2 linked regions of the Homo sapiens genome follow. The protein of the gene in region 1 interacts with the protein of each later gene in a pairwise test. Each region holds a gene or a part of one and is shown on either strand. Other genes may lie near its edges.

Evidence for each region.
Region 2: the proteins of ICMT (region 1) and RNF19B interact in binary tests that used the Homo sapiens proteins (3 or more experiments, as listed by UniProt).

What each region holds. Positions count from the first base shown.
Region 1 is NC_000001.11:6,225,895-6,233,160, reverse strand, and holds part of ICMT (protein-S-isoprenylcysteine O-methyltransferase), read left to right. Parts: intron 1-1,041; coding exon 1,042-1,259; intron 1,260-7,266. UniProt on the Homo sapiens protein: Catalyzes the post-translational methylation of isoprenylated C-terminal cysteine residues.
Region 2 is NC_000001.11:32,961,721-32,969,631, reverse strand, and holds the start of RNF19B (E3 ubiquitin-protein ligase RNF19B), read left to right. Parts: upstream 1-4,822; 5' UTR 4,823-4,946; coding exon 4,947-5,581; intron 5,582-7,911.

The sequences.
Region 1 (7,266 bases):
GTTTACTGGCCGGGCACGGTGGCGAACGCCTGTAATCCCAGCACTTTGGGAGGTCGAGGCGGGTGGATCACAAGGTCAGGAGTTCGAGACCAGCCTGGCCAATATGGTGAAACCCCGTCTCTACTAAAAATACAAAAAAGCCAGGCGTAGTGGCACATGCCTGTAATCCCAGCTACTCGGGAGGCTGAGGCAGGAGAACTGCTTGAATCCGGGAGGCGGAGGTTGCAGTGAGCCGTGATCGCGCCACTGCACTCCAGCCTGGGTGACAGAGCGAGACTCCCATCTCAAAAAAAAAAAAAGAGTTTACTAACAAGGTCGGGTGCAGTGGCTCACGCCTTTAATCCCAGCACTTTGGGAGGCCGAGGTGGGTGGATCACATGAGGTCAGGAGTTTGAAACCAGCCTGACCAGCATGGTAAAACCCCGTCTCTACGAAAAATACAAAATTAGCCGGGCCTGGTAGTGCATGCCTGTAATTCTAGCTACTTGGGAGGCTGAGGCAGGAGAATTGCTTGAACCCAGGAGATGGAGGTTGCAGTGAGCTGAGATTGTGCCATTGCACTCCAGCCTGGGCAATGAGAGTGAAACTCCGTCTCAAAAAATAAAAGCCTCCGTATGTGGAATGCACTCTGAAATTGAATGTCTCACAGCCAATGAAATGAAATACATGTGGCTCCTGGGATTCAGGGTGGAAACCTTGGACCCTTTTTTGCTTCTCTTAGCTATACTTGTCCCCAGATGAAGGACTGAGCATGTGGCCGGGGGTCGTGAACCAGAGAGCCCATCAGCTGTAGCAGGAGAGCATCTCTTTACCATGATGCTTTCATTGTGCTTATTGGTGTTTTAAAGTAAATTGATGAACAGCATAACTTAGGGGAATGTGTTTTCTTATGAAATTTTAATGTGATGACAAATGCTGATTGCCCAGCAGCACATTTTCTGTTTCTGTCTTCGGGAAAATAGGTTAATTTTAAGCAGTGCGAAGGGGAGCTCAGGCCAGTGTTTTCACTCCCCGTGTGTCGTTGATGTCTCTCTCCCACAGAACTGAAGCAGATTACCTGGCTCAGTGTCACAGGGCTGCTGATGGTGGTCTTCGGAGAATGTCTGAGGAAGGCGGCCATGTTTACAGCTGGCTCCAATTTCAACCACGTGGTACAGAATGAAAAATCAGATACACATACTCTGGTGACCAGTGGAGTGTACGCTTGGTTTCGGCATCCTTCTTACGTCGGGTGGTTTTACTGGAGTATTGGAACTCAGGTATAATATTAAATATGACACTGCTTTTCTTTTTTTTTTTTTTAAGTAACATTTTAAACGTGATATTCACGTAGCATAAAAGTCACCATTTCAAAATATACAATTAGTGGTTTTCAGTGTATTCATGAGGTTGTTGGTCTCCTTTAAATAATAGGTACATGTTCTTCTTGGCGCGTTTCAAGTGATAATTTAATAAAAGTCAAGAGAACTAATGTAGTCCTTAATGCTTTTCACTATGTGCCCAGAACCTGGGTGCGTAAGTCCTTGGTGATTCTTGGTGCTGTTAGCTACCTGCTGTATCCCTTCATCCTGTTTCTGCCTCTGTTTGTTTGTTTTCTTTTTTCTTTTTTTTTTTTTGGTAGAGACAGGGTCTTACTGTGTTGCCTGGGCAGGTCTCAAACTCTTGGCCTTAAGTGATCCTCCCACCTCAGCCTCGCAAAGTGCTAGCATTATAGGCATGAGCCATTGTGCCTCTCCCTTTCTCTGCCCCTTCAACCTATTAATAGATCTGAAGCACCCCAGAGGGGGTGAGGACAGAGATGGGGCTTAGGGAAGGGAGTGCCCTCTGTCACTCATGTGGCAGCTTGGCTAGTTTTCATCAGAAATAGGTATTAATGGGGCCGAGGCCATGTGTTAGTGAGCTGTGTGAGCCATGGAGGTTTGTTCTGTCTCAGGCTGAAGAAAAGGCCTTGTTTCGTTTCTTTTCTTTTCTTTCTTTCTTTTTTTTTTTTGAGACCTAGTCTTGCTCTGTTGACCAGGCCAGAGTGCAGTGGTGCGATCTTGGTTCACTGCAACCTCTGCCTCCCAAGTAGCTGGAACTGTAGGCACGAACCACCATGCCTGACTACTTTTCGTATTTTTTTTGTAGAGACAGGGTTTCTCGAGTTGCCCAGAGCCATCTTGAACTACTGAGCTCAAGCAGTCTGCCTTCCTGGGCCTCTCAAAGTGCTGGGATTACAGGCTTGAGCTACAGTGCCTGGCCTTTTTTTTTTTTTTTTCCTTTTTGAGATGGAGTCTCACTCTGTTGCCCTGTTGCCCAGGCTGGAGTGCAGTGGCATGATCTCAGGTCACTGCAACCTCTGCCTCCCAGGTTCAAGCGATTCTCTTGCTTCAGCCTCCTGAGTAGCTGGGACTACAGGCGCCCGCCACCACACCCGGCTAATTGTTTGTATTTTTAGTAGAGATGAGGTTTGACTGTGTTAGCCAGGATGGTCTTGATCTCCTGACCTCATGATCTGCCCGCCTCGGCCTCCCAAAGTGCTGGGATTATAGGCATGAGCCACCGTGCCCAGCTTTTTTTTTTTTTTTTTTTTTTAAAGACAGGATCTTGCTGTGTTGCCCAGCCTGGAGTGCAGTGTTCTGATCATGGCTCACTGCAGCCTTGACCTCCTGAGCTCAAGTGATCCTCCTACCTCAGCCTCCCAAGTAGCTGGAATACATTACAGGTGTTGCCACCACGTCCGGCTAATTTTTAAATTTTTTGTAGAGGTGGTTCTCCTGGACGGTTGCCTGTAATCCCAGCACTTTGAGAGGCTGAAGTGGGTGGGTCACTTGACATCAGGAGTTTGAGACAAGCCTAGCCAACATGGCAAAACCCCATCTCTATTAAAAATACAAAAATTAGTTGGGCCTGGTGGCACATGCCTATAGTCTCAGCTACTCGGGAGGCTGAGACCTGAGAACCGCTTGAACCTGGGAGGTGGAGGTTGCAGTGAGCTGAGATTGTGCCACTGCACTCCAGCCTGGGTGATGGAGTGAGACTCTGTCTCAAAAAAAAAAGAGATGGTTCCTCCTTTGTTGCCCATGCTGGTCTTGAACTCCTGGGCTCAAGCCATCCTCCTACCTTGGCCTTCTAAAGTGCTGGGATTAGGCCAGGCATGGTGGTTCTTACTTATAATTCCAGCTAGTCGAGAGACTGAGGCACAATATTTGCTTGAACCTGGGAGGCAGAGGTTGCAGTGAGCTGAGATCACGCCACTGCACTCCAGCCAGGGTGACACAGCAAGAATCTGTCTCAAAAAGAAAAAAAGAAAAAGAAGTGTAAGGATTATAGGTGTGAGCCACTGCACCTGCTCTATGTGTGTGTGTGTGTGTGTGTGTGTGTGTGTGTGTGTGTGTATTTTTTTTATTTATGTATGGTTTTTTGTTTTGTTTTGAGGCAGGGTCTCTCACCCAGGCTATAGTGCATTGGCATGATCATGGTTTACTGCAGCCTCTACCTCTTGGGCTCAAGTGATCCTCCCACCTTAGTCTCCTAAGTATCTGCCCAGGCTGGAGTGCGGTGTCACAATCTCGGCTCATTGCAACCTCCGCCTCCCGGGTTTGAGTGATTCTCCTGCCTCAGCCTTCTAAGTAGCTGAAACTACAGATGTGTGTCATCACACCTGGCTAATTTTTGTATTTTTTAATTAATTTATTTTTTTGAGATGGAGTTTCACTCTTGTTGCCCAGGCTGGAGTGCAATCATGTGATCTCAGCTCACTGCAACCTCTGCCTCCCGGGTTCAAGCGATTCTCCTGCCTCAGCCTCCTGAGTAGCTGGGATTACAGGCATGCGCCACCATACCCGGCTAATTTTGTATTTTTAGTAGAGACGGGGTTTCTCCATGTTGGTCAGGCTGTTCTCGAACTCCCAACCTCAGGTGATCTGCCTGCCTTGGCCTCCCAAAGCGTTGGGATTACAGACATGAGCCACCATGCCCAGCCCCTGGCTAATTTTTGTATTTTTGTAGAGACGGGGTTTTTCCATGTTGCCTAGGCTGGCCTCGAACTCCTGCGGTTGAGTGATCTACCCGCCTCGGCCTCTCAAAGTGCTGGGATTACAGGCGTGAGCCACCACATGTATTTCTTTTTCTTTCTTTTTTTTTTTTGAGACAGAGTCTCACTTTGTCGCCCAGGCTGGAGTGCAGTGGTGCGATCTTGGCTCACTGCAACCTCCACCTCCCGGGTTCAAGTGAGTCTCCTGCCTCAGCCCCCGCGAGTAGCTGGGATTACAGTTGTGCACTACCTCGCCCAGCTAATTTTTTGTATTTTTAGTAGGTTTAGTAGGGGTTTCACTGTGTTGGCCAGGCGGTTCTCAAACTCCTGACCTCAGATGATCCACCCGCTTCAGCCTCCCAAAGTGCTGGGATTACAGGCGTGAGCCACTGCATCCAACCCGCATATTTCTTTTTTAAAATTACTATTTGGCTAGGCACAGTGGCTTTGGGAGACCAGAGCAGGAGGATTGCTTGAGGCCAGGAATTAGAAACCAGCTTGGCTGGCCGGGCATGGTGGCTCATGCCTGTAATCCCAGCACTTTGGGAGGCTGAGGCAGGCAGATCATGAGGTCAGGAGATCAAGACCATCCTGGCTAACACAGTGAAGCCTCATCTCTACTAAAAATACAAACAATTAGCCTGGTGTGGTGGCACGCATCTGTAGTCCCAGCTACTTGGGAGGCTGAGGCAGGAGAATGGCGTGAACCCGGGAGGCGGAGCTTGCAGTGAGCCGAGATCGCGCCACCGTACTCCAGCCTGGGCGACAGAGCGAGACTCCATCTCAAAAAAAAAAAAGAAAAAGAAACCAGCTTGGCCAACATAGTGAGAACCCTTCTCTCCAGAGGAAAAAACTAAAAATATATCTGGAAGTTGTAGTGTGCACCTGTAGTCCCAGCTACTCAGGAGGCTGAGGCAGGAGGATCGCTTTGATTGCTGCTGTACTCCAGTCTGGGCAACAGAGTGAGACCCTGTCTTAAAAACAGAAAACAAAATTATTTATTTGTGTATTAAAGATGAGATCTCGCTGTGTTGCCCAAGCTAGTCTCAAACTCCTGGGTTCCAGCAGACCTTCTGCTTTTGTCTCCTGAGTAGCTGGGACTATAAGTGTGCACCACCATGCCCAGCTAACTTTTTGTTTTTTGTAGAGATGGGGTCTTAGTGTTGCCCAGGCAGATTTTGAACTCCTGGGCTCAAGCAGTCCTCTCACTGCAGCCTCTCAAAATGCTGGGATTACAGGCATGATCCACCATGCCCAACCCAAAGCCTTATTTCTTTTTTTTTTCTTTTTGAGACAGAGTCTCGCTCTGTCGCCCAGGCTGGAGTGCAGTGGCGCAATCTCGGCTCACTGCAAGCTCCGCCTCCTGGGTTCACGCCATTCTCCTGCCTCAGCCTCCTGAGTAGCTGGGACTACAGGCGCCCGCCACCATGCCTGGCTAAATTTTTTGTATTTTTAGTAGAGACGGGGTTTCACTGTGTTAGCCAGGATGATCTCAATCTCCTGACCTCATGATCCACTTGCCTCAGTCTCCCAAAGTGCTGGGATTACAGGCGTGAGCCATCGCGCCTGGCCGCCTTATTTCTTGAAACTGTTTCTTGATTCTTTACTCTTGGTCCTAGAAAAACTTGGCCAAAGAATGTGAATAGATCTTGGAAAATTCACGAAGTGTTTGGGAAAAGTCTCCAAGTCTTTGGGCAAATCCAGAGATCTCTCAGGCATCCCATCAGCAATGCATGGTCCTTGGTGACTCTGGTGACCCCTAACGGTATAGGTGGGGCAAATGATCACATAGCATTTACAATTTTTGTTTCTGAAACATGTAAAACCGCCACATTAACAATCACCTTCCCTGGGAACAAATTAGTTATGACTGAATAATGTAATTTGCCATAAATGCTTGCTTCCTGTATATGTGTGTGCACTAGAACCAAAGGGTTTTCCATACCTTTTTGCCCATAGATTTTTTTTACATTGTGCTCCAGCACTTGTGTGTGTATGAAAGGAACATGTCTTTCCTGATATAATACTTACACTTACTGTTTACAAAATCCTGTTTTCTATCTTATTATTTCAATACTGTTCATAATGTACTAAATGATTTCATGGCTTAGTAACAGGCTGCAGCCTGCTATAGAGAACTCCCACTGTAGGGTATCCCCAGCAAGCTATGCCAGATGTGAGGGTACAGGCCCCGGAGTCACTGACTGGGCCAGTCCTGATTCTGACATTCACTGCTTGGCCTCCTTCTCCTCTCATGTTAAAGTGGGGGCAGCTAGACATAGTGGCACATGCCTGTAGTTCCCCCTACTCTGGAAGCTGAGGCAGGAGGATGGCTTGAGGCCAAGAGTTCAAGTCCAGCCTGGGCAATATAGTGAGACCCTGTCTTTAAAAAATAATAAAATTTTAAAAAAAACAAAGTGGGGATAGTAGCGTGCCCTCAAAGGTTTGCCATGAGAGTTGAACAGGGTAATGATTGTAAAGGGCTTAGCATGGCGCTGGGAACATAGTAAGTGCTCAATAAGAGAAGGTGTGAGAGGTCAGGACATGAGCCTGGCTCTCCGGGTGGCTGTATTGGAGCCTAAAATATATATTCAGAAAACATACAGAAAATGTATGTTGGGGAAGATGCACATCCACAGGGGACCAGTGGGCAGGTGTAGGTGAGTGGTTCCCTGAGGAGCTGGGGAATGCTTTTGGCCTTGAAGGACTGTTTGGCTGGAGATCAGTGGGAAGGATGTTCTTTGTTTTTTTTGAGAGGGAGTTTCGCTCTGTCGCCCAGGCTGGTATGCAGTGGCGATCTCAGCTCACTGCAACCTCTGCCTCCTGGGTTCAAGCAATTCTCCTGCCTCAGCCTCCCAAGTAGCTGGGATTACAGGCTCCCACCACTACGCCCAGCTAATTTTTCTATTTTTGGTAGAGACGGGGATTCGCCATGTTGGCCAAGCTTGTCTCAAGCTCCTGACCTCAGGTGATCTGCCCTCCTTGGCCTCCCAAAGTACTGCAATTAACAGACATGAGCCACCGTACCTGGCCAGGATGTTCTTAAAGGTGGAAGAAAGGGCCAGGAGTTCGAGACCAGCTTGGGCAACATTGTGAAACCCCATCTCTACAAAAAATACAAAAATTAGCTGGGTGTGGTGGCATGTGCCCTTAGTCCCAGCTACTTGGGAGGCTGAGGTGGGAGAATCACTTGAGCCCAAGCAGTTAAGGCTGCAGTGAGCCATGATCACGCCACTGCACTCCACGTGACA
Region 2 (7,911 bases), about 27 Mb from region 1:
ATAATTACTCCTCTCTGGTGAGGAAGCTAGGACACATAAGCTAGGGATTCTACAGTTCCAGCAAGAGAGAGAAGTAGACTGAAAAAATAAAGTGGGAAGAAGAGGGAGTTAATGCTTAATGGCTATGGAATTCCAAGTTGGTAAAACGAAAAAGTTCTGGAGATGGATGGTGGTGATGGTTGCACAACAATATGAATTTATTTAATGTTACCAAACTGTACACTTAAAATTGGTTAAAATGGTAGATTTTATGTAATGCATATTTTACCACAATAAAAAAAAAAGAAGAAGCTAGCATGCAGAGAAGCAAAGATGAATGATGGAGTGCAGGATCTGGGGGCTTTCCTGGGTGCAGTTGCTGTGGTACAAAGGGTTCAAAAGGTTATAGAAGCCAAAAATCACTCCTTTGGCCTAGCCTCATTCAAGTTAGGCTTCTGGTCCTTGCATCCAATGGAGCCATAATACAGAACCTTTCCATTTTCTTTTTTGTTTCTTTTCTTTTCTTTTTTTTTTTTTTTTTTTTTTGAGAAGCAGTCTCACACTGTGGCCCAGGCTTACAGTACAGTGACATGATCTTGGCTCACTGCAACTTCTGCCTCCCAGGTTCAAGTGATTCTCGTGCCTTGGCTTCCCGAGTAGCTGGGACTACAGGTGAGTGCCACCATGCCTGGCTAATTTTTGTATTTTTAGTAGAGACAGGGTTTCTGCATGTTGGCCAGGCTGGTCTCGAACCTCCCGACCTCAAGCAATCTGCCCACCTCAGCCTCCCAAAGTGCTGGGATTACAGCGTGAGCCACCATGCCTGGCCAGAACCTTTCCATTTTCATTTCTCACTCATGTCCTTTCAAACATTCTCTTCTCCTGTCAACCCTGCTGCTCATACTTCCTCAGACTTATCCTGTGTTTATACACACTATGCCTTTCCTCCCTGCTCCCCAAGCTTGGAATGTCCTTCCCCCTTCTTATGACTTTGTCAACTCATATTCATCATTTGAGATCCAGCTGAAAGGGCTCCTCCTCAGGAAAGCCATCCCTGACCACCCTAAGCAGAGCCTGCCATGCCTTCTGTTGGTCTGTCATAGCTTTTTTGTATATGTCCTCATCACTTGGTATCTCAGTGATCTGCCATCTTGTCTGTAACCCCCAGTAGATTATGTTTTTCATCTCCATGACCCTGGTAGCTAGCAAAGAGGCTAGCACAAGTAAGTATAATAAATCTTTACTGAATGAGTGTACAGATGAGTGAGAATCTTTTTCTCCCTCATGCCATCTCTGAGTCACTACTCAGTTTCTATCAAGAAGAGACACATAAGGAAACGTGGGAGGAATTGCTTTAGTCCCTTTATTCAAGGGTGATAGTCTCAGGAGAGAAGAAAACACAATCAAGTTGGGGCCACTGCAAAGTCTAGTGGCATTTAAGAGAAGTTATTTTCCCCAAAGCACTGGCAGCTTTGAACTGAGGCTGAATTTGTTTGGAAGCCAGAGCCAAGACAAGCAGACATTTGGTAGTGTTGAGCCTTCCAGCAAGCTGGGATTCTGACAGCCGTTTCTGTCAGCTGCACAAGGAGAAGCATCTAAAAGGCATCTGGGTCTACCTGGAATTGGGGGTCCCCATATCTTTTAGCACAATCTGACCCAAGGAACAAGGCAGCCGTCTCTCCTACCCTCCATTCCCACCATAAGCATATACCTCCTCTAAGGGGGCTCTGCAGTTGATTAGGACGTTGGGCACTGAGAACAGAGTCAAAGATGACTATAGGAAACTGTGGCAGAGATGATACTACTGCTTACTAAATGGCTTATGGTTTCTTCCTACATTTCCCAGCCTCCCTTGCAGTTTTTTTGTTTGTTTGTTTGTTTTTGACACAGAGTCTTGCTCTCTCGCCCAGGCTGGAGTGCAGTGGTGTAATCTCCGCTCACTGCAACCTCTACCTCCTGGGTTCAAGCGATTCTCCTGCCTCAGCCTCCTGAATAGCAGGGATTACAGGCGCCCCACCACACCCCGCTAACTTTTGTATTTTTAGAGATGGGGTTTCACCATGTTGGCCAGGCTGGTCTCGAACTCCTGACCTCAGGTGATCCACCTGCCTCGGCCTCCCAAAGTGCTAGGATTACAGGCATGAGCCACCGTGCCTGGCCTCCAGCTCTCTTTTTGAGGCAATACTGAAAGCTTTGCATTGAGATAGTGGAGCCCAAGAGAGAAGTAGTCTGGATCTCTGAGTTACCCAGGAGAGTTGAGGAGAGCTACTCTGGAGAGTGCCTTAACCCACAGCCAGCGTTGCATGAGTGGAAAAGATATACCATTGTTGTGTGTTATGCCATTGAGAAATTTGGCTTGTTTGTTACCATAGCCAAGTCTAGCCTATTCTGCCAGATAAATATAGACATTAATTGTTGTTTTAGCCATCCAGCATCAAACCTCCTTCCTATTTGAGGATTAAACTCTCCCCCTCCTTTAGGACTCTTTGGTGTTGCCAAATCCAGTGGTCACATCTCTGTTCTTATCTTTCTTGATTTCTCAGCAGCATTTGTCACAATTGACCACTCCCTTCTGGGAACATACTATGTTGGTGTCTGTGACATCATGCCTGCTTAGTTTTTCTTTTATGTCACTGGCCCCCGCTTTTCAGTTTTCTTTGTTGGCTCCCCTTCTTGTTTTATGTCAAAAGTTTGAAGTTCTGGAGACCTGGTTTAAAATATCACAGCTGGTTTCCACCTTTTGAGACGATGTCTTTTTGTGTCACCCAGGCTGGAGTGCAGTGGCATAATCACGGCTCACTGCAGTCTCAACCTCCCAGGCTCAAGCATTCCTCCCACCTCAGTCTCCCAAGTAGCGGGGACTACAGGCACACTCCATCACACCCAGATAATTTTTGTATTTTTTGTAGAGATGGGGTTTTGCCATGTTGCTCAAGCTGGTCTCAAACTCCTGGGCTTAAGAGATTCACCAGCCTAGGTCTCCCAAAGTGTTGTAATTACAGGTGCGAGCCACAGCTCCTGGCCCATCTTACCATTCCTTATTAATAACAGAGCACTCATTGTTAGCTGGGCACATTGTACCCAGTTAAGAGAATGTTTCCCAGGCTCCCTTGCAGCTGAGTATGGCCATGTGAGTGAGTATGTTTTGGCAAAAATGTGCGGGACTTTCGAGGCAGTCCTTTTTTCTTTCTTTCTTTTTCTTTTTCTTTTTTTTTTTTTTTTGAGACAGAGTCTCGCTCTGTCGCCCAGGATGGAGTGCAGCGGCGCGATCTCGGCTCACTGCAACCTCCGCCTCCTGGGTTCACGCCATTCTCCTGCCTCAGCCTCTCGAGTTGCTGGGATTACAGGCGCCCGCCACCACGCCCGGCTAATTTTTTATATTTTTAGTAGAGACGGGATTTCACTGTGTTAGCCAGGATGGTCTCCATCTCCTGACCTCGTGATCCGCCAGCCTGGGCCTCCCAAAGTGCTGGGATTACAGGCGTGAGCCTCCGCGCCCAGCCCCAAGGCAGTCTTCTTAAAAGGAAGAGGATGCATCTTTCTTCCCTTTTTCCTTCCCACTGTTTGGAATATGGACCATAGTGAGGTGACCTTAACACTGGAAGCCAAATACTGAGGATGGCTGAACAGCCCTGAACTGCCTACTTTTGGACTTATATTTCATGGAAAGAGAGAAATTTCTGGCTAGGTGCAGCGGCTCATGCCTGTAATCCCAGCACTTTGAGAGGCCAAGGCAGGAGGATCGCTTGAGCCCAGGAGCTCGAGACCAGCCTGAGCAACACAGGGAGATTTCATCTCCATGAAAAAAATAAAAATAATAGGCAGGCCTGGTGGCGCACCTGTGCTCCCAGCTACTCCAGAGGTTGGGGTGGGAGGATCGCTTAAGCTTGGGAGGTTGAGGCTTCAGTGAGCTGTGATCACGCCACTGCACTCCAACCTGGGTGACAGAGCAAAACCGTCTCAGGAAAAAAAATAAATAAATTTCAATCGTAAGCTATTTTTTTCTTTTGTTATTTGCAATTGAATGTAATCCTGATACATTCCTGTTGTTGAAGCTGTTTGCCTGCCTCCCACTAGGAAGCCTAAGGGTCCAGATCCTCCCCCAGTCAGAGGAATGGGGAACTAGAAAAAGAAAGGCAAAGGCACTGCCAGGCAAGAAAACGCTGGGTCTCCTTCCACAAGTTTGGTAAGTAAGCAAGATACCAGGAGGATAGAATGGTAAGTGAGCCTAGAAATAGACTATTATATACATAGGGTTTATTAAATACATAGAGAACACTGAATGCTAGACTAAGAAATTTGGACTTTATTCTGGAAGTCCCTTGCAATAGGGGACCTTGTCTGTTTTATTTTCTAATGCCTCGCACTTTGTAGAAGCTCAGTGAATGAATATATTCTTTATTAATTTATGCCGTCTGCTTAATAAACAGAAATGTTGGAAGGTGAACCAGTTGGGAGTCACCATCTGATCAACCCCTGCCTGCTTTTTATAAATAATGTAACTGAACCATCATTTACTGGAAGTGGCAATCAACCTGTGAGGAACGGCAAACCAAAAAGTCCACCTTGGGTGTCATGGTGATGGAATTGGAGGCGGAGACCAGGGAGAGCAGCGGGCTAGGATCTCTGAGAGTCTCCGCAACATGGCGGCCCTGGAACCACCTGACCGGCAGGAGGCGGAGCTCCGCCCCAGCTCGCTCGGCCCCACCCCGCTCGGCCCTGCCCAGCGCACTCCTAGACCGGGGCGCAAGGGTTGTGAGGTGTTTGAGCGAAGCGCCTGCGCAGGGCAGCGGCGCGCGGGGCGGAGGCTTTATAATCACTTCGTCGTTGCCGCTCGGCTTCTATCGCCGGGAGGGCGGTTGAGGCGGTGGTGGCGGCGTCGGCGGCGGCCGGGCGCTGGCTGAGGGGCGCTGAGGCGGGAGCTGTGGCGGCGCTGGGCGCCCCTGGCTCCTCGGCCTCTGCCGGCCATGGGCTCCGAGAAGGACTCCGAGTCGCCGCGCTCCACATCGCTACATGCGGCCGCACCCGACCCTAAGTGCCGCAGCGGCGGCCGGCGCCGGCGCCTCACCTTGCACAGCGTCTTCTCTGCCTCGGCCCGCGGCCGCCGCGCCCGGGCCAAGCCGCAGGCCGAGCCGCCGCCCCCGGCTGCGCAGCCGCCGCCCGCCCCGGCCCCTGCCGCGGCCCAGGGCCCGCCGCCCGAGGCGCTGCCCGCCGAGCCGGCCGCCGAGGCCGAGGCGGAGGCCGCGGCGGCGGCGGCGGAGCCTGGGTTCGACGATGAGGAGGCGGCGGAGGGCGGTGGCCCGGGCGCGGAGGAGGTGGAGTGTCCGCTGTGCCTGGTGCGGCTGCCGCCTGAGCGGGCCCCGCGCCTCCTCAGCTGTCCGCACCGCTCGTGCCGGGACTGCCTCCGCCACTACCTGCGCCTGGAGATAAGCGAGAGCAGGGTGCCCATCAGCTGCCCCGAGTGCAGCGAGCGACTCAACCCGCACGACATCCGCTTGCTGCTCGCCGACCCGCCGCTTATGCACAAGTACGAGGAGTTCATGCTGCGCCGCTACCTAGCCTCGGACCCCGACTGCCGCTGGTGCCCGGCCCCGGACTGCGGGTGAGCGCGGGGGCGTGGCGCGGGTGGCGGCGGGCTGCAGCCGAGGGGCGTGGCTGGGGGCAGCAGGGACCCCGCGTGGGTGTCCCAAGCAGGGAAACCCGCAAGGCGGCAGCTTCGGCGGGGTGGTAACCATCAGGCAAGCCCAGACTAGTGGTGTGAACGCACCCGACACCCCGCCCCCTGCCCCAGGGCTCGAGGTGGCTGCTAAGCATTCGGTGAGGGGAAGGGAGCTGTCCAAGTTAGGAGACAGGGAGAGGCGGTTTTTTTGTTGGGGGAATGCCCTCTGTCCGGAGGTGAGGACAGTATCTTTTTTTTTTTTTCTTTTTTTTTTTGGAGACGGAGTCTCGCCCTGCCGCCCAGGCTGGAGTGCAATGGCGCGATCTCGGCTCACTGCAACCTCCGCCTCTCAGGTTCAAGCGATTCTCCTGCCTCAGCCTCCCGAGTAGCTGGGATTACAGGCGCCCGCCACCACACCCGGCTAATTTCTTTGTATTTTTAGTAGAGATGGGGTTTCACCATGTTGGCTAGGCTGGTCTCGAACTCCTGACCTCAGGTGATCCTCCTGCCTCGGCCTCCCAAAGTGCTGGGATTACAGGCGTGAGCCACCGCTCCCGGCCAAGGTGGGGAGTATCTCTTAATGAGAGTGGGGAGGGGATATTTGGCCAAGGAGGGAATGAGAATATTCTGAGGGGGCAGCGCGTCGGAGGGGTGTGTCCACTTGGCTAGGGACAGACTTAGCATTGCAGAAGAAGGCGTGTTCTCCCTGACAACCACCGCTGAAAGTTGGGATGGAGGTGACTGGGGAATAGGCTCTCGGGTACCCTGAGCACTATGTGTTCTGTGCCACGCTATCGGGAGGCACTCTGTCGTTCTTACCTTGCTGCCTTGGGTAGGGTGAGGGGTAGACAGATATGTTCTTTGTCCAGAGTCTCAATGGGGGCACTGAGAAGAATGCCCAGAGGTTGGTGTGATAGGAGAAATTGTGTTTCTGAACCCCTTTGATCTTGAGTTCTTGATGACAGTCTTTTTAATGCACCATGTAGGCTGAATTTTAAAGGGCAGTAAATTAAAATATGCAATATCTGCAGAGACATAATACACCAGATTTTGCTATCTGAAGCATTCAGTGGAGACCTTCCTCGCCCTCCCCGCCTTTAGAAGTCTAATTGTTACTGTCAGTATATCCCATGAAGGGGTTGCACGCAGGAAGAGGGGCTCATTTAAGTAGTTGGGAGTCAGACAGCCATTACCTGTTCTGTGACCTTGGGCAGATAATTTTATTCTTGTGTGTCATGTTTTGGCGACAAAAAGATGCTGGGGAGTCCTTGCAGTGTGTAAACGTAATGCTAGTAAAAAGTTGTGTGATCTTTAGCTTCAAAGGAGTTAAGGACTTTTAATTGTAGCCTATATATCAAGGTGGTTTTGAAATCTCCATGATGCTGCTGGTTGTCTCCTTTCAAAAGGAGCTGTCTTAGAGTGTCTAGGAGAGTAAGAAGAGTTAACTTCTGTTTTTAATTCTGCCAAACTTGTTTAGAAATGGGTGTGCTATTTAACCTCACTGAGATGGGGTTTCTAAATTACTTTGAAGTGTTGTGGTCAAAGGAATGGTGTTTATGGTGGCTCACTTTCACTTTCAGTTAATAAGTATCAGGAAGGACCTTTTAGGTTCATGGAACTGTCTATGTCTAGTGATCTTACTGGCCCTCTGAGGTTAATTTATATTAAAGTTTTACAGATACTGTTGATCTGTTTTCTTAACCAAACGAATATTAAGAGAACACAGGCCAGGCTCGGTGGCTCACGCCTATAGTCCTAGCATTCTGGGAGACCAAGGTGGGTGGATCACCTGAGGTCGGGAGCTCAAGACCAGCCTGGCCAACATAGTGGTATCCTGTCTCTGCTAAAAATAGAAAAATTAGCCGGGCATGGTGGTGCACACCTGTAGTCCCAGCTACCCAGGAGGCTGAGGCAGAATCGCTTGAACCTGTGAGGCAGAGGTGCAGTGAGCCGAGATCAGGCCACTATACTCCAGCCTGGGTGACAGAGCGAGATTCTGTCTCAAGAAAAAAAAAAAACAAAACACTGCATAGTTAATTTTGGAATAGTACATTAACTCCTTTCTGAGATGTTTCCTTGAGTTCTAAGAAATGTGGCAGATCATCTTTCTGGAAAAGGTCCCTGTTTGTTTTTTTATTTTTCTAAAGTCAGTTTCTGTCTTTGCTCACATCAATAAAAATGCACAGAAAATAATTTTCAAGCTTGGTGACAACTCTCAACTATTTGGAAGTTATTAAAAAATTAGGCCATTTCTTATTTTAGCCAAGTATTAT